7 linked regions of the Homo sapiens genome follow. The protein of the gene in region 4 interacts with the protein of the main gene of each other region in a biochemical or structural test. Each region holds a gene or a part of one and is shown on either strand. Other genes may lie near its edges. The genes, in order: KCNJ18, TANC2, CNTNAP4, LDB3, CD46, GHRHR and PRKACA.

Region 1 (2,590 bases), on a different chromosome or scaffold from region 4:
GTTTTTGGCTGGAGCTGCTGGGGGCCCGAAGGGGGTGGCCACTCGCACTGGGAAGGCGGAGTGGGGAGCTGGCTTAGGCAAGACCAGAGCATGATTGTGGGTCAATCAGGGTGGAAGCGTCCTCCAGTCACGTCTGGGGGCCCTGGGATGGGGGTAGAGGAGCCTGGAGCCACCAGCCCAGCCAGACATGCTGTCCTCTCTGTTCCAGGAGCCGCCCTGCCTGGAGCTAGCCTGGGGGTGAGCCAGGGTCCCCCAACCCCCGGGATGACCGCGGCCAGCCGGGCCAACCCCTACAGCATCGTGTCATTGGAGGAGGACGGGCTGCACCTGGTCACCATGTCGGGCGCCAACGGCTTCGGCAACGGCAAGGTGCACACGCGGCGCAGGTGCCGCAACCGCTTCGTCAAGAAGAATGGCCAGTGCAACATTGCGTTCGCCAACATGGACGAGAAGTCACAGCGCTACCTGGCTGACATGTTCACCACCTGTGTGGACATCCGCTGGCGCTACATGCTGCTCATCTTCTCGCTGGCCTTCCTTGCCTCCTGGCTGCTGTTCGGCGTCATCTTCTGGGTCATCGCGGTGGCACACGGTGACCTGGAGCCGGCTGAGGGCCACGGCCGCACACCCTGTGTGATGCAGGTGCACGGCTTCATGGCGGCCTTCCTCTTCTCCATCGAGACGCAGACCACCATCGGCTACGGGCTGCGCTGTGTGACGGAGGAGTGCCTGGTGGCCGTCTTCATGGTGGTGGCCCAGTCCATCGTGGGCTGCATCATCGACTCCTTCATGATTGGTGCCATCATGGCCAAGATGGCAAGGCCCAAGAAGCGGGCACAGACGCTGCTGTTCAGCCACAACGCCGTGGTGGCCCTGCGTGACGGCAAGCTCTGCCTCATGTGGCGTGTGGGCAACCTGCGCAAGAGCCACATTGTGGAGGCCCATGTGCGCGCGCAGCTCATCAAGCCGCGGGTCACCGAGGAGGGCGAGTACATCCCGCTGGACCAGATCGACATCGATGTGGGCTTCGACAAGGGCCTGGACCGCATCTTTCTGGTGTCGCCCATCACCATCTTGCATGAAATTGACGAGGCCAGCCCGCTCTTCGGCATCAGCCGGCAGGACCTGGAGACGGACGACTTTGAGATCGTGGTCATCCTGGAAGGCATGGTGGAGGCCACAGCCATGACCACCCAGGCCCGCAGCTCCTACCTGGCCAATGAGATCCTGTGGGGTCACCGCTTTGAGCCCGTGCTCTTCGAGGAGAAGAACCAGTACAAGATTGACTACTCGCACTTCCACAAGACCTATGAGGTGCCCTCTACGCCCCGCTGCAGTGCGAAGGATCTGGTAGAGAACAAGTTCCTGCTGCCCAGTGCCAACTCCTTCTGCTATGAGAACGAGCTGGCCTTCCTGAGCCGTGACGAGGAGGATGAGGCGGACGGAGACCAGGACGGCCGAAGCCGGGATGGCCTCAGCCCCCAGGCCAGGCATGACTTTGACAGACTCCAGGCTGGCGGCGGGGTCCTGGAGCAGCGGCCCTACAGACGGGGGTCAGAGATCTGAGCCAACCTTGGCCGACATGCAGCATCCACCCCTGGCCGGGGAGAGGCCCCGCGGTCGCTCAGGGGCCCTGGGTTTGAGCAGAACGGGCCCAGTGCCCTGGGTTGCAGACTCAGTAGCGTTTTAGTCGTTTTATGTTTCTTTGCAAAGGCCTCAGAAGGTTGGCCGGAGAGGGGGCAGCCAGAGCGGCAGCCCCCGGCCTCAGAGGCTATCACAGGCTCAGGGCAAAGAAGTGGCCTCCTGGGGGGCCAGGCCACGGGGGCCAGGGCTTCTGCCTGAAGATGGAGCTGCAGCCTGCGGGGAAGCAGCCCAGCTCGATGGTGGGCCCAGCCTCTGCTGTCCAAGGCTGGCTAGCTGCGGTGCTCCTTGCTGGTTTTTAACTTGGGGAGAAACACCGGGTTTCAGCTTTCTCGACCTTAGCTTGGGTGAGACTGTTTACAAAAAAAAAAAAAACCATGCAATTGGAGAAAAAAATTTTAATTCATAGGGGGCAAAAAGAACAATTAGAATTCCATGGGTCTGCCAGGATGCAGCAGCTGGCTGGAGGCTCCAGAGGGTTCCCCGAGGTGGGACCGGCCTCTCCCCGTGTATGTGGGCACTGCAGTCCCTGGGCAAGCAGGGTGCTCTGGGGCCGCACTTTGTCGAGCTCACGAGCCAGCTAGGCTCTGTTTGTGATAGAAAAATCAAGACCATGTTAATGATTGTAATAAAAGCTTTCTGCTGTCTTTGGGGTGCTGGGTGGGTCTGGGAAGAAAGTGGTTTGAGCTTTTAGAGTTTGCCTTTGTACCTTAGAGATGTGTCTCAGGGCCAGGCATGGGACCTGCCATCGAGGGTTCCTCCTCCCACCCTCGATTTTCCTGTTTTGCTTCTTTCTCCATTTCTGTCCAGGCCTCCGCCCAATTCCACAGTGAGGGGTGGTTAGGAGCCATAGGCCAGGATGCCTCCTTGGGAAGGGAAGTCAGGATCCCAGGCTAGGAGGAAGCTGGCAGCCCCGTCCCCACTGGGCCCACAGTGTGAGTCGTGCGTT
Region 2 (3,500 bases), on a different chromosome or scaffold from region 4:
GCCCAGCGGCCCTACCAGATGCCTCAGCTCCCTGTGGCAGTTCCCCAGCAAGGGCTCAGGCTACAGCCTGCCAAGGCCCAGATTGTGAGAAGTAACCAGCCCAGCCCAGCCGTCCATTCAAGCACCGTCATCCCCACAGGAGCCTATGGCCAAGTAGCCCATTCAATGGCCAGTAAATACCAGTCTTCACAAGGAGACATAGGAGTCAGCCAGAGCCGGTTGGTTTATCAAGGGTCAATTGGGGGAATCGTAGGGGATGGAAGGCCGGTGCAGCATGTCCAAGCCAGCCTGAGTGCAGGCGCCATCTGTCAGCATGGAGGATTGACCAAAGAGGATCTTCCACAGCGACCTTCCTCAGCATACCGAGGTGGCGTGAGATACAGCCAGACACCACAGATCGGACGCAGCCAGTCAGCATCCTATTACCCAGTCTGTCACTCAAAACTAGATCTGGAGCGCTCCTCCAGCCAACTAGGTTCCCCTGATGTGTCGCATTTAATCAGAAGACCTATCAGTGTCAACCCTAACGAAATCAAACCGCACCCGCCAACTCCCAGGCCGTTGCTGCATTCCCAAAGTGTAGGCCTTCGCTTCTCTCCATCTAGCAATAGTATCTCCTCCACCTCCAACCTAACTCCGACCTTCCGGCCATCTTCTTCCATCCAGCAAATGGAGATCCCACTGAAACCTGCATATGAGAGGTCATGTGACGAGCTGTCGCCAGTGTCTCCAACTCAAGGAGGTTACCCCAGTGAGCCCACCCGATCCAGGACCACACCATTCATGGGGATCATAGATAAAACAGCACGGACTCAGCAGTACCCCCACCTCCACCAGCAGAATCGGACCTGGGCAGTGTCATCTGTGGACACCGTCCTCAGTCCCACGTCTCCAGGCAACCTGCCTCAGCCTGAGTCCTTCAGTCCACCATCATCCATCAGCAACATTGCCTTTTATAACAAAACCAACAATGCACAGAATGGCCATTTGCTGGAGGACGATTATTACAGCCCCCATGGGATGCTGGCTAACGGGTCTCGTGGAGACCTCTTGGAGCGAGTCAGCCAGGCCTCCTCCTATCCCGACGTGAAGGTAGCTCGGACTCTACCTGTGGCTCAGGCATACCAGGACAACCTGTACAGGCAGCTGTCCCGAGACTCTCGGCAAGGGCAGACATCCCCTATCAAACCAAAGAGACCGTTCGTGGAGTCTAATGTTTAAAAGACGTTTTGTTGGAGTGAGACCCATATGTTTTCACTGCACATTTTCAGGCTTGGTTTCCACATTCGAGGTAGTTCTCTGGCTTAATTTCTCATGTAGTTTCTGTGTGGTGTTCAGAGGTGGCAGCCCACATGCTGAAATCCTTTGCATGCAGCCGACTGGGAAGCGGCCTCCCGGGAGCCAGGACTTCAGTTTCTCTTGTCTGTGCCCAGCCACATGCTCTCTCCCTCTCTTCAGATGCCAACGAGGAGATTTTCGTGCTGTGTGCTTTAACCCAGGGAGATCAGACACACTGGTCAGCTTTTTCCAGGAGACAATCGCTTTCACTGATGTTCTTGTTGTGTAATTGTCTTTTTCCTTTTTTAAAAAATAAGGTGTTCTTGTTCGTTTTCTTCTAGAAACTTTAGAAAGAGTGCGATGCCCCTTTGCCTTTGCATCCTTAGCCAGTGTCACCCACACAGCCAGCCGCAGCGCATTCTCATGCTGTGGCCCCTCCCCAGACCGCCAGCGCCCTGCAGCCACCAGGTCTGCAGTGTGCATTAGGATTATTGCTGGTCTTCCTAGGGGGTAAAAGGATCAGAGAGAGAAGAATTAAGTGCTAAATTGGAAGAAAACCCCAATATAATTATGTAAAATGTCACTACATTGATTTTCCAAGAGGCATTGTAGGAACATGTCAAAAACAGCCAGCCCTTTAAATATTGCAGTCAGCCAAGGAAATTAGATGAGAATTGTGGCTATTAAGAGAATTCACTGAGAGTTATTCTCTAGATTTTTAGCCGACAATTAACCACTAAAAGCTGCTGCTTTTCCAGGGTGGGGGAGGGAATGAATACATAGAAAAACAAAAAAGATTGTTCTGGATTCTCAGTGAAAGGCTATAGGAAGTCTGTTCTGGAGACATCTACTTTTTAGATCCTGATACATCACTGAGTGTCATACTCCACTAAAAGGAAACTCTAACCGAAGGCTGGCTGGTGTGACAATCCCGTTAGTTGGATCTTCACCTACAGCCAGATTTTGTTCTAGTGGCCCTCTTCCTGTAAACCCAGATGGTGTCATACAGAAATTGTTTCTTTCAGAAGCAGATTGGAATCTCTTGGGACCATGAGACTGAGTCCCAATATTTCCACCCAGGGTCATGCCCGTTGTTGTCTACTTCCATTTTGAGATCTATAGTTTGATTATCTATTATTACAGGAACTGTTTCTTTTCTTTTTCTAGGAGTGTTTATGAGAGTGTGATATTTTAAAGTCAGACGCAGCAAAAACTGTTTCAGGGTGAAGAAAGACCCCTTTCAGCCCTGTTTTGCAGCCCTGGGTGGGGGCATGAGATAGACAGCAAGCTTCTGATCTTGAAGCTTGTCTAGAAGACACATCTTCTAGGTCTCGTGGTCATTTGGTAGGCTGACCTTTGAGTGAGCGAGGCCACTATTGAGTGGATAGCAAGAACATTGGAACCAAAGCCTCGGCACAGGCCTGGCACTGGCTGTACATCAGCTCTTACAACTAAACAACTCAACTAAGCAACTGAAACGAAACAAAGGAGCATTCGTTCTCTGTTGTTAGGAATCATTCTGCTCTGTTAGGGAAGGGCTGCAGGAAGGGCAGTTTCCTGAATAAAAATCTGGCTGCGACCAGTCCCATGTGTCTGGTAAGTAAGTAAGTAAGTAAGTGCCCTTTGAAGGGATCATTAAGACACAGGGAGCATGAACCTGAGATCAGAAGCATTTCTTTACTAATTTAGATTCTGCGAAATAGACGGACCTCTCCACCCCCAAACCTAAAACAGGCCAGGACTTGTCTCTGTGCTGAAAGCAAATAGCAAGACTAACTCAAGCCCCAGCCTCTTTCCACACTCCCTGATACCTAAGGACTGCTTTCTCAGCTAGACCAGGGTGGGCATCAGCGACGCCTTCTCAGCTAGACCAGGGTAGGCATCAGCGTCCTCTCTCCATCTCTATACCCCTCTCTCTCACATCAGGAAGATGAAATGTGTAGCTCTAGCGGCAACCTCTAGCCAGGAGCCCAGTGGCCTCTCAGATTGCTTTTTGGCCAGGTCTCAGCACTGCTGGCATCTTTACATCTTACTCCTTAAAACCGCCTCTCGCTGAGGAGCCACTGCATTTTGAAGAATTTCTCAGTGTCTGTCAGGAAAGTGCTCCTGCTCATTTGGAACGCCACACACCACCCGCACTCACCTGTCCAGGCGAATGAGCAGGTCCTGTAGCTTTACAAATATGCCGCTGATGCCGCTTCTCCCCAGGGTCTCTCAGTTTT
Region 3 (3,500 bases), on a different chromosome or scaffold from region 4:
TGGCAAAGTATCTGTTGAATGTAAAGAATGAGTACAAGATCCTGGTGATGAGACAGCATCATATATTCAAAGATGGAGCGCATCATATTTCATTACTTAAATATTTGACTCATTTATGAAAAACTAGTGTTTGTTGATGGTAAATCCATTAATAGTCACCTTTATGTATTATAAAGTGTTAGTTGCTCAATCTGCTTTTTTCTACCTAGTGTTGATGCTCTTAAATAATATGGCTGTCAGCAACCTGCCCCATGGGGCAATTCTTTATTTTAAAATCATTTAAAGCATTACTTTTTTTTTTATTTGAGACTGAGTCTTACTCTGTCACTCTGTCACCCAGGCTGGAGTGCAGTGGCGCAATCTCGGCTCACTGCAACCTCCACCTCCCAGGTTCAAGCGATTCTCCTGCCTCCGCCTCCCGAGTAGCTGGGCTTACAGGAGCCCACCACTATGCCCAGCTAATTGTTGTATTTTTAGTAGAGATAGTGTTTCACCATGTTGCCCAGGCTGGTCTCAAGTTCCCGACCTCAAGTAATCCACCCACCTGAGCCTCCCAAAGTGCTGGGATTACAGACGTGAGTCCCCATGCCCGGCCCTGTTACTATTGTATTTGTTGAAGATATTCAACAATGCAAGGATATTTAAGATGCATTGTTTTTTATTTGAGTTTTTCAGACATAGTTTTTCCAGAAATATAAACAATATACCATTAAATATCGATGCATTACAAAAATAGACACATTTATACATTAATCATACATTTTATTGTATGATATGTTGAATATCTGCTGGTGAAATAAAATAGTAGAATACTTTTCAGCTTCTCTCATTATCTGATATGCCTCATGGAAGAAGAAAAGAACAGTTGTAGGATTAAGTGTTCTGGACAGACTTCCATGAATATACAAACATTTATTACTCTTTCATAGTTCCTCATAGAAGACTGACATCCAATTTAAATTCATTTACTTTATTTAAAGTGTCTCTTGGCTATTGAACCTTTTCCTGAAGGAGGCTAACAAAACTTGGCTCCAGATTAAAACAACTCCTGACTTACAAAGAAAGCATGGGATGAGTTAATAAAAAGATGGCCAAATGCTCTTTTCAAGTCATCTGCTTTTCTCAGGAATAATCTATAATTTACAAATCAACTTGTGATCATAATCATATACTGCTGGTACCATTCTAGGACACTTTTCATGTTTAAAGTGATCATTAAGACCACTTCATTAAAATAACATGTCTTTGTTTTCTGGATATAAATAATTTCCAGTTCATCTTGCTAAGTGCAACCGTAAATGTTACTCTGTATGCACATATTATATTGAATATAAAATGCGTGTTATAGATAATAAAATAATGAAACAATTAAAAACTCTAAGATGTCAAGGGAGCCTAAACATTACTGTATGATCCAGTAAGTATCATCTACAACTTGTATTCAATAACCAGTCCTTTTTCAGTAATGGAGAGAAGCAGATTCAGGGATTTAAAACTAGTTATTTCTTCTGCCATCTTCTTCATTTTCATACATATGTATTTGGTGTGTGTGTGTGAGAGAGAGAGAGAGGAAGACAGAGAGAATTTGGGATATTAATCTCATACCAGGAAAATACTACACTTTTGTAAAATGATTTAAAAGAGGTTGGTTAGTTCTGTTTGTTGATCCTGTTTCCCTGTATCATGTTAATACTAGACTTAGCTTTCTTTTTATAGTACACAATAACTATGAGAAAATGTTTAGACATAAAGGAAAATTTCTGCCTCTTGATCCTGGGAAAGAAGAGAGTCTCTCAAACATCCTTCCTTCCTAACTATTTTGTAGATAGGAGGCCCTAGACTTCCTTTAAGATACACTTCATTTAAGATTGTACTATCTGCAATATAACAGATGGGAGTTAAAATTTAAATAAAAAAGTAGATGATCAAGGAGATAGAAGACAAGCCTGGTTTGTGTTTGAACTCAGATAAGAAAGCATTTAACTTTCAACTGTAAAATTATACTAGTGCATTAATTATATGTCATTTTAACAGAAAGCCATTTCAAAGATCATTTTGAAAGCTCTATTAACTTACTTTATTATTTGATTCTATTTTGGGGTTGGTTCTTCTATCTATGCAATTCATTAAAGAAACTAAAATATAATTATTGTAACTAAAACAAAATCCTTGTACTTAAAATTTTTAACAAAAATATATATATATATTATTTCAGAGATTTCTGCATATTTTGGATCTGGCTCATCCGTGATATACAATTTTCAAGAAAATTATCTTTTAAGTAAAAACTCCAGCTCCCACGCTGCTTCATTTCATGGTGATATGAAGCTGAGCAGAGAAATGATCAAATTTAGTTTCCGAACAACACGAACACCAAGCTTGCTGCTTTTTGTGAGCTCCTTTTACAAAGAATACCTTTCTGTGATCATTGCCAAAAATGGTGAGTTCTTTTTAGATGAGAGAGAGAAAATTAAATTAGAACACTAGCTCTGTAATAATATGGATCATTCTCGTGTTCTGGCTTCTCAAGCTACAAACAGAAAAATGGAGTGTGCCTGTTTTTTGTAGTCATATTTTTAGTACTATCCTATAAGTATAATCTAAAAGGATTATTTAAAATGATTAAGATGCCCTTATCTCTTTATGATTTTGATAATTTTACATATTCAATGTATAATTTTATTTATATAAAACATTTATTATATTATTGTTAGAAGCTCCTTGACTATTCCATATGGCTATCAATATTTGTTTCATAGTTCATTTTGAAATAAGGTGTCTTGTTGTATGTAACTATTTCCTGCAAATCAAAGTAAAGAAACATTAAGGGAGTGTTAATAAACCAGCATTTTGAGTAAGAATATGTCCACAAGATGACCTTTTAGTTGTACTTTTAGTTAAAAAAATCATCATGGGAAAAAAATGTTATATCCATGCAGTGTTAAGGGAATGTAGATTAGGAAATGTGTTTCCTACAGAAAACCATTTACTGCTATTTTTCTCTTTCCCACATCTAGATTAAAGGTAAAAATTTTGGAAATAACTTCTCTGGATAAGAAAAGCAAACATACAAACATGTGACTATATCATTTCAACTGATTCAAATATATCCCAAGGGTACTGTACTGAACACCAAAATAAAAATAAGATTGTTCGATAAGTGTATTTATTCTTACTGTGCATTTTGAGCTTGAAGCTTATTTATATATTAGGGCATTTTCTTTGTCAAATTGAAAGATATCCTGTGAAATAAATTAACTGACATCTCTGCAGGCAATTAAATGAGTAGTACTAATTGTGATGGTAAATTTGGCTTAAAATCATTCATCTTACCATTATTTCATTTCAAAGTCTATGACCATGACTACTTGGACATATTTCTTCTCTTTAGTAAAACTACATTTGTGTTTAATAATTTCATTAATTGTTGTATTTCCAGAGTGTGAGATATATTTTTTAAATATAGGAACAGAATATTATTGCAATATTAAGCAATAGGT
Region 4 (3,500 bases):
GGAAATGCCTTTATTTATCCTGGACAGGTGTGGCTGGGCCTGCAACATGAGCTGCCCTTTCACCCCACCCCAGCCAGTTCTCCAGGAAGTGGAGAAGGGGGAGCAGCCCAGAGAGGGAGCAGCTCCAAAGGCCTCTGCCCTGGCAGCTGGCCAGAGGCTGGGGCTGTGGTCTGGGGTCTCACCTCTTCATGCCTCTCATGCCTCCGCCTTGGGGAAGAGGAGTATGCTTTGTTAGGCTCTGCTGCTCTCAGCTGTGTCACCTCAGAAGTCTGTTTACCTGCTCGGCCTCAGTTTTTCTCACCCTTAAAATGGGGATAGCAGGCTGGGCGCGGTGCCTCATGCCTGTAATCCCAGCACTTTGGGAGGCCGAGGGGGCAGACCACTTGAGGTCAGGAGTTTGAGACCAGCCTGGCCAACATGGTGAAACCCTGTCTCCACTAAAAATACAAAAATTAGCCAGGTGTGGTGGTACATGCTTGTGATCCCAGCTACTCAAGAGGCTGAGGCAGGAGAACAGCTTGAACCCAGGAGGCAGAGGTTGCAGTGAGCTGAGATCGCACCACTGCACTCCATTCTGGGGGCAGAGTGAGACTCCATCTTAAAAATAAATAAATAAATAAACAAATAAAATGATGCCTTCCACACCTGTGAGAGCTCTTTCTAACAGGCACTTGTGAAAACTTTCCACCTGTTGTCTACTGGGACTGGTTGTGAGACTGGTGGAGTCGGGGGCTGAGCCTGGGCCCAGGAGGGGCCTGCCTGTCTACTGGAAACCCTCTCTTCCTAGGGTCTCAGCCACCCCGCCTGCAGGCTCACCTGGAGCACCAGCTCAGAGGCCTCTTCTCTGTGGGTTTCGGTTCCAGTATTTATCAGACTCTCCCAGCTGTGGTGGGAACATGCTGAGGACAGAGGGTCTCTGGGGAGAGGAAGGGGGACAGGCTGAGACTATTCTGGGGTAGCTGTGCCGGCAATTCCTGGAATTTCGGGGCCGCTGGAGCACGCAGTGCTGTTTCTTGGGCAGCTCTTAGCAGTGCTGACAGGCCGTGCTGTTTATAGCCGCACTGAAGGTCAGGCAAGCCTCCGAGGGCTTCAGTGGGGCTGGCAGGGGCCTCCCTGCAACATCTATCAACAGGGGAAGATAAACGGCCAGAGGCTCAGAGGCTCACAGCTGGGGAATGCATTCTTAGAGGTCCCCCAGGCCAGGTCCTCCGGGCTGCTCAGAACTGCATCTAACTCTGTGAGGGATCCAAAAGGAGAGGACATGAGGCTGGCTGGGTCCTGGGGAATGAATTGGACCCTTGGAGGCCCCTGGGCCAGGACACCGTGCAAGGGCAGCTGCATAAGCAGCCCCAGGGCTCCGGGCCTACAGATATTGTGGGGTAGCCAGTGTCAGGACTGCAGGGCTGTTTGAGAAAGGCTGGGCCAGGCTCTGCTGGGGGCTAGCTCCCCAATTCCCTGAGTCTCCTTCCCTTTCTGCATGGTCCCCTCTCATCCAGAGGCTGCCCCTGACTGCAAAGACCCTCCTCTACACTGAGCCCTCCCACCCCCAAACACAGCTTTGGCACCCCTTTGGGACCAGGCTCCACCTCTGCCCAGGAACCATCCTTGGACACAAGAATGGGCCTTGCTGGGGGCCCTTGAGAGCCAGTGCCCATGAGGGCATTTTATTGGCCACACCCAAGACCCAAATGGAACTGTGGACCTGGACAGGAGGAAGAGAGGCAGGAGAGACTCAAGAGACACTTGAGGAAAGCCAGGGGAGGTGTGGTCAGCTACAGAGGGGGCAGTGACCCGTGGCTTTGGACACAGAAGGTCATTGATATGCGTGGAATAATGGGGCCAAAGGCAGACGGCTGTGTGTGAGCAGGTGGGAGGCAGCGGCAGTGGGGGCAGGATGTGTGGGTCACTTCTTGGAGGAGTCTGGAGGTGCAGAAAGGAGACATGACAGGAGCCAGTTGGAGCCACCCAGGCAGGCAGGGAGAGGCTTTTTGAGCATTGAGGGGACTCCGGCTTATTTATCGGCCAGGGTGGAGTTGGGGAGTGGGACCATGGGGAGACAGAAGGTTCCAGTGAGAGGGTGAGCATGAGCAAAGCCCCAGGGGAGGCCAGATGGGAAGGCAGCAGAGCAGGACAAGACAGTAATTTAATCATACAATGAAAATGCACTTTGTCCCACCTGCCCCAACCCAGGCAGGCAGCCTGGGAGTGTGGGGAGGGGGAGCTGCTGAAACTTGTACCCTTCCTACTTATCTGCCACCTGCCCCAGCCTCCACCCACCACATCTACACTGGCACATCTAGAAGAGGAGGAAGGCAGGGGCCTGCCTGGTTTGAACACCGGGAGTGAATGATGGCCAGAAACGTCTGCAGAGCCCAGCTGCTCTCTCTGCTGCCAGGGAACTGGGAAAATAGGAGCCAATGGCATGGGTGCGTCTGAAGCCTCACTGGTGCCTTCTTTCCCCTGGGCCTTGGACAGAAGTTTCCTCCCCTCCCCCCAACACCCAGGCCCCTCTAGGGACAGCAGGCTGGCTCAGAACTGGTCAGTCAGGGCTGGCTCCTCAAGCTCCACCCTCTGCCAGCTGTGGATCTTGTTTCCTGTGGAGCCCGGGGATGTAGCCAGCCAGCCTCACACCTTCTGGGGGTAGCAGATGGGGTCAGCACTGTGCCTCCTGGATTTGGAGTTTTCCTGAAACTCTCTCAGCTCTGCACCCTCCTTACATAATCCCCTGTTTAACGACATAATCCTCACAACAATCCCGAGAAAGGCATTGTCATTCTCTTGACACTGGAGGGCTTGGAGGCTGGCACCGAAGTCAGGGGCCCGGCCCATACTGGCACCTGTGCTCCTCCTTTGCTGCCTCCCCGCCCCCAGCCCCCAGCACTCACAAGTGGCTCTGGCACCAGCTCTCCCTGGGCTGCCCTTGGAAGTGCCCTAAGACCTTGGCCCAGCAAGGCGGAAGGGCTCCTGGGGGCAGGGAGCTGATCTTGGCCTCCAAACACCTGCAGCCTTTCTTGGGGGCTTTGGAGACAGGAGCTCGGTGCCCCACCCTGAGGCCATTCTAGGCTGCACCCAGGGTTGGGTTTCCAGGGTTTAGAGGGGCCCATTGGCGGGAGAAGACTGAAATGTGAAGTGGGAATGAAACACTCATTCAAGGGAGGCATTTAAATGCTCAAAGGCGGCTAGAAAGATTAAAAAGAAAAAACCACAGCTCCAAGGAGTTGGGTGCTTTGGGCCCTTTCTGAAACACAGAAAGGAAAGAGGAGGATGGAGTCAGACAAGACAGACGTGGAAGCATCGTGCCTGGACTGCACTCTCCATGAGCCCTGGACTCTGGGCAAGGGTCTGAGGGTGCCCCCCTCCAACCCACCCAGGCAGGCTGCTCCTGAGGTGGGGTGAAGGCATCCGATGGCTCCTGATCATCCATAGGGTCCCTGCCTCCATCCTGCCTGAAGCACCTCCCTAGAGGAGGATATCAGCACCCCCAGCCCCCACCCTGAGGG
Region 5 (3,500 bases), on a different chromosome or scaffold from region 4:
CTCTTAATGACCTAGTCATTTCTTAAAGGCCCCACCACCTCTCAATGCTGTTACACTGGCAATTAAATTTCAATATGAGTTTTGGTAGAGACAAACCAGATTCAAACAATAGCAGTAACACACCATAATATAGAAAAAGTAAGTGAGTCTTGGAGGAAAAATCAGCTGTGACTATGTAAGGCAACTGACAGTTTTTAAAATTTGGTCAAGTAGAAATATTGGAATATTCAGTTGACACATACTGCTTGCTAGGCACACCGAGGGATACCAAAACTTTAAGACAGTGACCTTCCTAAAAGAAGTTCTAACCTTATTGAGAAATAATATATACTGAGAGCAATAAAAGCAAAATACTAAATGAGAAATACCAAATAAGTAGAATTATTCATGATAATTACTCTAAGAGTCCAGAAGGAGGAGAGATTCCTGTGAATTTAAATCAGGGAAGATTTCATTGAGTATAGGGGTATACTTAATGAAAGTATTCTTATACTCAGTGAGCTATTCCTAGAAATACACTCTGTTCTAAATAATATTAATAGAAGCTAAAACTCATGTAGCACTATCTATGTGCCAAATGCTAACTTATCTAATCCCCTAAACAACCCCATGTACTGTTATCCCCTTTTAATCAATTAGGAAGCTGAGTGAAGGAACTTTAAGTGACTTACCCAAGCTCAAGAAACTAGATAAGTTGAGAAGCAGGGACTTGAATCTATCCATTCCAGCTCTAGGGCCTGTTCTCTCTACACAGTCCTTGTCCTTACTGTGCAAAGTGGTGTGAGAAAAGGCACAGAAATGAATGTGTAATGTGATTGCAGGAGGCAGCAAAGAGGCTGGGTGGAAAGGCACAGCAGATTTATTTAGACATCTTTGCTCTTGGCCAATATATATTCAAATGGGGAAACTCTATTTGATTAAATTGCAGATTTATTTAGCACTTTCGTTATATAGTATGTTGTTTAAGAAACCACCCCCTCAAACTACTGTAGTGTAGAAAAGAAACCATATAAAAAATTCCTTCATTATTATGTGTGTCTTATTAATTGCTATACAAAACAGTAACCCTTTCTTTTCTCATTTAGTTATTACTTAATTGGTGAAGAAATTCTATATTGTGAACTTAAAGGATCAGTAGCAATTTGGAGCGGTAAGCCCCCAATATGTGAAAGTAAGTAAATTCTTTTTTTTTAAATTTAGACCAGTAGTCCTCAAAGATTTTTGCCTCCTTTACACCCTTTACACTTTAAGATTAACAAAGATCCCAAAGAGGTTTCTTTTATGTGGGTTATATCTATTGGTATTTATCATATTGGAATTCAAACGGAGAGGTTTTTAAATAATTATTGATTCTTTTTGGTTTTGTTTGTTTTTCCTAAGACACGGTCTCAGGCTATTTCCCAGGCTGGGGTGCAGTGGCACAATCTCAGCTCATTGCAGCCTCAGCCTCTCCAGTAGCTGGGGCTTCAGGCATGTGCCACTATGCCTGGCTTTTTGTAATTTTTGAAGAGACGGGGTTTTGCCATGATGCCCAGGCTGGTCTTGAAATCCCATGCTCAAGCAGTCTGCCCCCGTGGGCCTCCCAAAGTGCTGGGATTACAAATGTGAGCCACCCCACCTGGCCTGATTAATTTGTAAGAATAAATGCAATACAAATTAACATATGTAACATAATTTTTATGAAAAATAATAATTTTCCAAATCAAAATAAAATTAGTGAGAATAGTGGCATTGTTCACATTTTTTGCATATCTCTTCAACATCTGGCTTAAAGCAAGATTGTATTTGGCCTGTTGTGTTATCACACAATATGTAGCCTTTGGAAAAATATCACTATATTCTTATTAGGATCAGAGTGAAAAAAGACAATAATATTTTGGTGGTATTGTGAATCACCAATTTAGAAAATGGATATATTTATAAATTGCAAAGGATTTCTTAACTAGCACCGAGTTAAGCATATTTTCTCATTAATTGTCAGCATTTCTTGTGATGACTAGAACAGAACTTAGCATGGCCTTCCAAATAAATACAGGCGTATTAGGCCGTTTTCGTATTGCTCTAAAGAAATACCTGAGACTGGGTAATTTATAAAGAAAAGAAGTTTAATTGGCTCATGTTTCTACAAGCTGTACAGGAAGCATGGTGCTGGCATCTGCTGGGGGTTTGGGTAGGCCTCGGGAAACTTAACAACCATTGGGAAAGACAGAAGGAGAGCAAGGTGTCTCACATGGCAGGAGCAGGAGGAGCAAGGTGGGGAGGACGGGAGGTGTTGCGCACTTTTAAATAACCAGATCTCCCAAGCACTCAGTATCACGAGAACAGCACCAAGGGGACGGTGCTAAACCATTCATGAGAAATCCACCCCCATGATTCAGACCCCTCCCACCAGGCCCCACCTCCAACATTGTGGACTACAATTTGACATGCGATTTGGTGGGGACACAGATCCAAACCATATCAATAGGTATTTACACTTTAAGAAAATGAGATTTGTTCTGAAAGTTAGTTACTACATTAATGGTTTGAATTTGGGATGATATATTTGCTCATAGAAACCTTCTTTTAAATCCATATTGAATTCACAAACAGCTTGTAGAAACCCTATATTGACAAATTTATTGAAGACACAGAAATTTTACTAATGCTGTCTTAATCTTTTACATTTCCTTTCCTCTTTTTCTTCATTTTTAAGAGGTTTTGTGTACACCACCTCCAAAAATAAAAAATGGAAAACACACCTTTAGTGAAGTAGAAGTATTTGAGTATCTTGATGCAGTAACTTATAGTTGTGATCCTGCACCTGGACCAGATCCATTTTCACTTATTGGAGAGAGCACGATTTATTGTGGTGACAATTCAGTGTGGAGTCGTGCTGCTCCAGAGTGTAAAGGTAGTGTTTCAATTTATTTCCTTCTTCATTTGTAAATACTATGGAAACATTTTGTAAATAGTTTCATCTACAGATAAACAAAGCAGGTGTATGTGCTTCCTCCTCCTGTATAATTGGTTTCTAATTTATTTTAATTCAGGTCAATTCAAGTCAAAAAATAGTTCTAGCTAGAGTTCCCTATTTCTCACCCCTACATGTTCTTGGCATTTCATTTTATACAGTGTGAACTACTGTGTACCTGCATGAGTTAGAAGTTTTTGTTTGAAAGAACCAAAAAAAAAAAATACACACTGGCTTAAAGAAAGTTTCATCTTGTATTACAAGAAATCTAAGAGTTCTGGCTATGGTAGTGGTAAACTGTGACAGACTAATCGTCTCACAAATAAAAATGATAAACTCTGGATAAAAAAAATTTTTTTTTTAAAGACCAAATGTTTAAGGCACTCTGGAGTGACCAAAAGTATGAAGACCATGTAGGGGACTTGCCCATTTAAAGAAAGAAATCACTGAATAACAGTGATTTAAAAGTATATACTCCCCAAGTACACATGAAACATTCTCCAAAGTAGACCATATTCTAGACAATAAGACAACTTTTAACAAACTT
Region 6 (3,038 bases), on a different chromosome or scaffold from region 4:
CATTTTTAGTAGAGACAGCGTTTCGCTATGTTGGCCAGGCTGGTCTCGAACTCCTGACCTCAGGTGATCTGCCTTCCTCAGCCTCCCAAAGTGCTGGGATTACAGGCATGAGCCACCGCGTCCACCCCGGGAGCATCTCTTAAAAGCACAGTGCTGAGGGGGAAACGTTAGAAGCAGGATGAGGCATATGACCAACAGCATTTATGTAAATTAAAGTACAGACACACAAAACACCACGTATTTTGCAAGACACACAGAAACACAAGTATTCACATTAAGCATGCTCTCTTTGCCTGTGAGAGGAGGCGAATGGGAGTGGTGAAGGCAAAAGAGAGTACATTTTAAGAATAAATAAAACAAGAGGCCCCTTGCACAGATAAATAATCATAATGTAGCATGAACTGAGGAATGATGAACGCAACTCAGCACCAGACGTCTAAATAAAGAACGCAGGTGCGCTCCCCTTTAAAGGCCCATTTACTCACTCAAACATGCGTCTATTCATTTACAGGTTTATTGGCTCCTCTGAGCCTTGGGCTAGAGCCCCAGGCCCCAGTAAGAGGAATGGATGAGAGCAGACACAGAGGGACCACAGAAGTCAGAGGTAGACATACAGGGACCTCAAAAGAGAGTCAGATGCAGAGACAGGGAGGAAGGGCTGCACCTGCCCCGGGCTGGGTAACAGCTGGGGTGGGGATGTGGCCCCCTTGCTCCTCCAGAGCATGGCAGACCCGTGGTAGCTGCCCAAATTCAAGTGTGGACTCCAGTGGCGTGATGAGGCAGCCTAGCACATAGATGTCAGCACCTTTGCCGCCGAGCGGGAAGGCGTGGTCCACTTAGCACGGGTCCTCCAGGCTGGCAGAAGCTCAGGGTCATGGCCATGCCACTTCCGTGAGATCTCAGTCCTCACCTCCAGGGACAAGGAAGAGGACGTTAGGAAGGTCCCCCTGTGGCTTTGCTACTCAACCCCAATGAGACTAAGGTGCAGGGAGAGGCCGTGTAAGAGAAACAGAGACATGGGGCAGGAAAAGTCATGCTTGGCAACAGGTACTGCTAAGTACTACCTCTGGAGGATACTACTTTTTCCTTCCTGTGAGTATTTCTCACCATTCTTTTAGCTCCTTTCTCTGCCTTTTAGCCCTGCCTTTGTCTGAGCCCAGTTAAAGACATTTATAGGTGCTTTCTTGAGTTCCTGGCCAAATAACCACCCTGTTCTCTCTTAATCACTTAGACCACTCCTTGCTCTGGGATTCAATTTTGTGAGCTCAACTCTGGCCACTGGAAATCTGTCCAGAGGACATGACCTGAAGGGAGAGAGGATTCAGAACTCTGTCTGAGGGGTTGCAGTTGAGGAAACTGAAAGTAAGTAAAAGAAAAGTAGCCTGGGGCAAGATGGAACGGTGGGATTGGGGGGTGGGGGTGCTGTCTGTATCTTCACATCTCCAAGGGGCTTTCAGGGGCATAGGGTGCTGAGAGAATGTGCCTCATGCAGTAGAGCCGAACTGGGGTTGTGGTGAAAGATAAAAGGAATCAGATATCTGTTCAACATAAAGATGATCTTTCCACAGCTGCCTGACAACAGAAAGAGCTATTGGGATGTAGTAAGCTCACTGTCACCAGAGGTATGTAACCACCTGGTCTCCGGCACTGCTTCCCAAGACAGCTCCCTTCACACCTCTCTGTGGAAACACTTTTTCCACACCCCACCAGCCTCAGCCTGGGATGCTTCTTGCCCCTCCCAGGACCCCCAGGGCCCATGGTCTGCTACAGCCAGACACCAGATAAGGCTGCATGGGACTTAGAGAGGTCAGGTGAGGAATAAAGAGAGGGAGAGTGGAAGGAGCAGTAAGGGACAGAGGTGGCAGATGAGATGGGAGCAAAACTCCACAGCGAAGGGGACAGGGCATCTGCAGCCAACTCTCACAGAATGCAGAGCCCATGGCAAATCCATGGCCAGCAGAGGGAGCGCATGGCCCTGCAGGTGCACAAAGGTGGAACTTGGGAGTCCGGGGCATTGAGATCAATTCTCCCCCGCCTCTCTCCCCAGAGCAGGACTGTCCTAAGGGGGAAATTCAGTGTCTCCTGGGTGGAATTCACTTTGCGTCAGTCTCTGTCGTGTCCCCACGTTTCCACATGTGCAGCAGCACCATCTGTTCTGTCTTTTCATGTCTATCTCCCCTTCTGTCCACTCTCTTTGTGTGTCTGTTTTCTTTAGGTGCTCTCTCTGTTTCTTGGGCTCCAGATCTTCCTCTTTGTCTCTGCATCTGATTATTTTCCTAGTTCCCTGTATGTTTACCTCTGACTTTCTTGGCTCCTCTATCTGTTCTCTCTGATTGTCTCTCCCTCAGCTGGCGTACCCCCTCCCCAACTCTCCTTTTTGTTCAATTTTAGGAACACAGAATTGGGGGATTCCTTCTGACTCCCTACCCTAATCCCCCTCCTTATCCCTGAAAGGCCTCCTCCACCTCCTGAAGAGTAGCTAGTAGAACTTGGCCCAGCTCAGAGGAAGGATGGATAAGAGATGTTTACAGGAAACATTCCGGTTCAGCTTGATCCAGAAGCTCAGGACAGACTACCACAAAAGCTCACAAGAGTGAAGGTGTGGCCTGAGCTGGGGTTTACAGGGCCTGAGTGGGAGAGAGGAGGAGGGGCCTTAGGTCTGGTGGGAGGGGGACTCCATGAGGGATAGCCTCAAAAATCACACACCTCTTGGTTGAGGAAGCAGTAGAGGATGGCAACAATGAAGCCCTGTGGGTCCAAAGAAGAAAGACCCCATCAGAACCCTTTGGCCTGGCCTGAAGGTGTCCACCGTCTTTCTGCTACCTTTTCCCTACTCATCCCCAGGCTATGGCTTGGGCCAGGTTTGATTGAAAGGGGAATTTAAATGCATTCATTACTTACTATGTGCCAGGCATATTGTCATAGAATTGTCATAGCAAGCCTGCCAGGGCTGTACTGTTGGCCCCATTTCTCTGACTTTATTTCTGCATCCCTTGTGAATGAGCACAACACTTGGCACATAATAGGGGATCAGTAAG
Region 7 (3,500 bases), on a different chromosome or scaffold from region 4:
GTCAGAGCTGAAGTGGGAAGGGAAGCGCACCTGGAGGAAGGGGTACAAGGACAGGGTGGGAAGCTGGTCTGGAACTTGGGAAGCCCATGATGCTTCTTTCTCCATCCAACGGTCCTACTGGGTGTGGGCCTCCAAAGCAGAGTGCCTGCCAGCATCTTGTAAAACAGCTCCTTGAGCCTACCCTACAGTTTCCAATTTAGGAAGTCTGATACTGTGGCCTGAGAATCTGCATTTCTTTAAAAACTTTAAAAATTCAAGAGTTAGTTATTTTAAGAAGTTTTTGTAGAGACAGGGTCTCACTACGTTGCCCAGGCTGGTCTTGAACTTCTAGGCTCAAGCGATCCTCCTGCTTTGGCCTCCCAAAGTGCTAGGATTATAGGCGTGAGCCACCACACCCAGCAAGAATCTGCATTTCTTTTTTTGAAAAAAAAAAAAAAAAAAAAAAAAAAATAGCCTCACTCTGTAGCCCAGGCTGGAGTGCAGTGGTGCGATCTGGGCTCACTGCAACCTCCGCCTCCTGGGTTCAAGGAATTCTCCTGTCTCAGCCTCCTGAGTAGCTGGGATTACAGGCTCACGCCAAGACACCTGGCTAATTTTTGTATTTTTAGTAGAGACGGGGTTTCACCATATTGGTCAGGCTGGTCTTGAACTCTTGACCTTAGGTGATCCACCTGCCTTGGCCTCCCAAAGTGTTGGGATTACAGGTGTGAGCCACCGTGCCTGGCCCAAGAATCTGCATTTCTAACAAATTCCCCAGCAATGGTGCTGCTGGAAAGGGGTCCCTTTTAAGAACCATTGCTCTAAGGCAAGTGCTATGATGATTTCCATTTCAGAGAAGGGGAAACTGAGGCTTGGGTTAAACAGCTCTTCCTAGGTCACATTGAGGTGTGTGATGGGGCAATTCCATCTCAGGTCTACTGGACTCTAGAACTTGCATTCTCAGCTGCTGCTGCTGCTGCTTAAGGCATCTCTGCTGGGGTCTGGAGACTTCTGAAATATTCTTGCTTATGACAAACTTTTTCTCTCCTCTCTTTCTGCATAGCTAAGGCTCTTCCGTTCTTTAAAGCCCAGCTCAACTCTTCTTGAAAGTTTTCCCCAAACCCTCTGAGCCCACGCCTTGTATGCAAGTCATCACTGGAGTTATAGTTGCAAGAAACGACTTCTTGTTCCTGCTGTGCCTCTTACACGCTGTGTGACCTTGGCCATGGCCCTTAACCTCTCTGGGCCTGCGCATGCCTCTCAGATGTGGGGCAGATATGCCAGGGCTGCACGAGGGAGATAATACCACTGACGGTGCGGGGGAACTAGAAAATGCTACAAAGAAGGGAGTCATGTGCATCTTCTCCTGTGGGATCTTCTGTGTTTTTTTCTTTCTTTTTTTTCCCACTCTGGGACATTTTTTTTTCTTTTTTTCTTTTTTTTTTTTGAGATGGAGTCTTGCTCTGTTGCCCAGGCTGGAGTGCAGTGGCACAATCTCAGCTCACTGCAACCTCTGCCTCCCGGTTTCAAGTGATTCTCCTGCCTCAGACTCCTGAGTAGCTGGGATTACAGGTGTGTGCCACCATATCCGGCTAATTTTTGTATTTTTAGTAGAGACGGGGTTTCACCATGTTGGTCAGGCTGGTCTTAAACTCCTGACCTCGTGATCCGCCCGCCTCGGCCTCCCAAAGTGCTGGGATTACAGGCGTGAGCCACCACACCCGGCCAACTCTGGGCCATTTTCTTGGCAGTTTCTTTTGGTCCGGTGGCAGATGCCTCATCTTTCCCTTTTTTTGAGACAGAGTCTTGCTCTGTCACCCAGGCTGAAGTGCAGTGGCGCAATCTCGGCTCACTACAACCTCTGTCTCCCGGGTTCAAGCAGTTCTCTGCCTCAGCCTCCCGAGTAGCTGGGATTACAGGCACCCGCCACCACGCCCAGCTAATTTTTGTATTTTTAGTAGAGACAGGGTTTCACCATGTTAGCCAGGCTGGTCTTGAACTCCTGACCTCGTGATCCACCTGCCTTGGCCTCCCAAAATGCTGGGATTATAGGTGTGAGCCACCGCGCCTGGCCTTCATCTTTCTCTTTTAGTGATGCTATGTGTCCAGCTGGGGCACCCCACTTGCCTGAATTTTTTTAAAAGACAGGGTCTGGCTCTGTGACCCAGGCTAGACTGCAGTGATGCAATCACAGCTCACAGCTCACTTCTGGGCTCAAGCGATCCTCCTGCCTCACCCTCCCGATGAGCTGGGAACACAGGGGTGCACCATCACGCCCAGCTAATTTTTAGTTTTTTTTTTTTTTTTTTTTTTTTGAGACAGAGTCCTGCCCTGTTGCCCAGGCTGGAGTACAATGGTGTGATCTTGGCTCACTGCAACCTCCGCCTCCTGGGTTCAAGTGATTCTCCTGCCTCAGCCTCCCAAGTAGCTGGGATTACAGGCGCCCACCACTATACCCAGCTAATTTTTTTTGTGTGTGTTTTTAGTAGAGACGGAGTTTCACCATGTTAGTCAGGCTGGTCTCGAACTCCCGACCTCAGGTGATCTGCCCGCCTTGGCTTCCCACAGTGCTGGGATTACAGGTGTAAGCCACCGCGCCCGGCCAGTTTGTTTTTTTTTTTTTTTTTTTAGAGATGGGGTCTGGCTATGTTGCCCAGGCTGGTCTGGAACTCCTGGCCTCAAGCCTCCACTTCCCAAGGTGCTGGCATTACAGGTGTGAGCCATTGTACCCAGCCCCAAAGTTTCAAAGCCAGTCGGTGGCAGAGCTGGGACTGGGGCCCAGGCTGAGCCTGAGGGTGCTCCCACCACAGTGTCATGACTCCGGGCCAACCAAAAGCTCCTGTGTAGGAGATGCTGGACCAAGTCGGGGGATGGTCGGGTCTTCCCAGCAAGGTGGTTGAGCTGAGGGCAGAGGTGGGGTCCCCAACCTCTCTCCGGCCATCAGTGCCTACAATGATTGCCTACGGTGATTACCTACTCACCAAAGTGTGATCTTGGCCAAGACACATCCCTTTTCCCAGCCTGTTTCCTCACCTCTCCTACAGAGGGTGCCACTATCTCAGGGTGTGACTGATGGGGATTCTGGGGCCTGGTGGATGGTGGGCACTTTGCACCTGTCATAGATGTGAGCTGAGATGGCTTCACCACCCCTCATCTGAACCCTCAGAGTTAGGCAAGTCTGGGTTTGGGAGAGGAAGCATGGGCTATAAATGCTAAGTGAGGGCAATCCTGGGTGAGGCTATGGACAGCACCTGGGAACAGGAACCAAATACATTCGTTTTTCTGCCTTGGAATTTGCGAAAACTCACACTAACTGGGATGAGGAGCGAAAAGGAGGGTCGTCTGGCAGGGCGGTTTGTGTTCTGTGGCCAAGATGTTCCCGTGAGGCTCGGGATTTTGGAAGCCCATGGGATTCTGGAACCGCGGGGTTGGGGCTGGACAGCAAGGGGGCTTGAGGTGTTGGCCTCAGTGTGGCCGGCGCGTCCAGCTTCACCACCTGGCCTGACTTAAGGAACTTCTAG

Evidence for each region.
Region 1: the proteins of LDB3 (region 4) and KCNJ18 interact in a test that uses a peptide from one of them, tested with the Homo sapiens proteins (one large-scale study listed by IntAct).
Region 2: the proteins of LDB3 (region 4) and TANC2 interact in a test that uses a peptide from one of them, tested with the Homo sapiens proteins (one large-scale study listed by IntAct).
Region 3: the proteins of LDB3 (region 4) and CNTNAP4 interact in a test that uses a peptide from one of them, tested with the Homo sapiens proteins (one large-scale study listed by IntAct).
Region 5: the proteins of LDB3 (region 4) and CD46 interact in a test that uses a peptide from one of them, tested with the Homo sapiens proteins (one large-scale study listed by IntAct).
Region 6: the proteins of LDB3 (region 4) and GHRHR interact in a test that uses a peptide from one of them, tested with the Homo sapiens proteins (one large-scale study listed by IntAct).
Region 7: the proteins of LDB3 (region 4) and PRKACA interact in a test that uses a peptide from one of them, tested with the Homo sapiens proteins (one large-scale study listed by IntAct).

What each region holds. Positions count from the first base shown.
Region 1 is NC_000017.11:21,702,523-21,705,112, forward strand, and holds the end of KCNJ18 (inward rectifier potassium channel 18), read left to right. Parts: intron 1-208; coding exon of another isoform or gene 209-264; coding exon 265-1,566; 3' UTR 1,567-2,090; downstream 2,091-2,590. UniProt on the Homo sapiens protein: Inward rectifier potassium channels are characterized by a greater tendency to allow potassium to flow into the cell rather than out of it.
Region 2 is NC_000017.11:63,420,735-63,424,234, forward strand, and holds part of TANC2 (protein TANC2), read left to right. Parts: coding exon 1-1,221; 3' UTR 1,222-3,500. UniProt on the Homo sapiens protein: Scaffolding protein in the dendritic spines which acts as immobile postsynaptic posts able to recruit KIF1A-driven dense core vesicles to dendritic spines.
Region 3 is NC_000016.10:76,535,901-76,539,400, forward strand, and holds part of CNTNAP4 (contactin-associated protein-like 4 isoform 1 precursor), read left to right. Parts: intron 1-2,215; coding exon 2,216-2,440; intron 2,441-3,500. UniProt on the Homo sapiens protein: Presynaptic protein involved in both dopaminergic synaptic transmission and GABAergic system, thereby participating in the structural maturation of inhibitory interneuron synapses.
Region 4 is NC_000010.11:86,671,511-86,675,010, forward strand, and holds part of LDB3 (LIM domain-binding protein 3), read left to right. Parts: intron 1-3,500. UniProt on the Homo sapiens protein: May function as an adapter in striated muscle to couple protein kinase C-mediated signaling via its LIM domains to the cytoskeleton.
Region 5 is NC_000001.11:207,758,554-207,762,053, forward strand, and holds part of CD46 (membrane cofactor protein isoform 3 precursor), read left to right. Parts: intron 1-1,085; coding exon 1,086-1,171; intron 1,172-2,695; coding exon 2,696-2,893; intron 2,894-3,500. UniProt on the Homo sapiens protein: Acts as a cofactor for complement factor I, a serine protease which protects autologous cells against complement-mediated injury by cleaving C3b and C4b deposited on host tissue.
Region 6 is NC_000007.14:30,976,991-30,980,028, reverse strand, and holds the end of GHRHR (growth hormone-releasing hormone receptor precursor), read right to left. Parts: intron 2,749-3,038; coding exon 2,707-2,748; intron 911-2,706; coding exon 785-910; 3' UTR 501-784; downstream 1-500.
Region 7 is NC_000019.10:14,093,763-14,097,262, forward strand, and holds part of PRKACA (cAMP-dependent protein kinase catalytic subunit alpha), read right to left. Parts: intron 31-3,500; coding exon 1-30.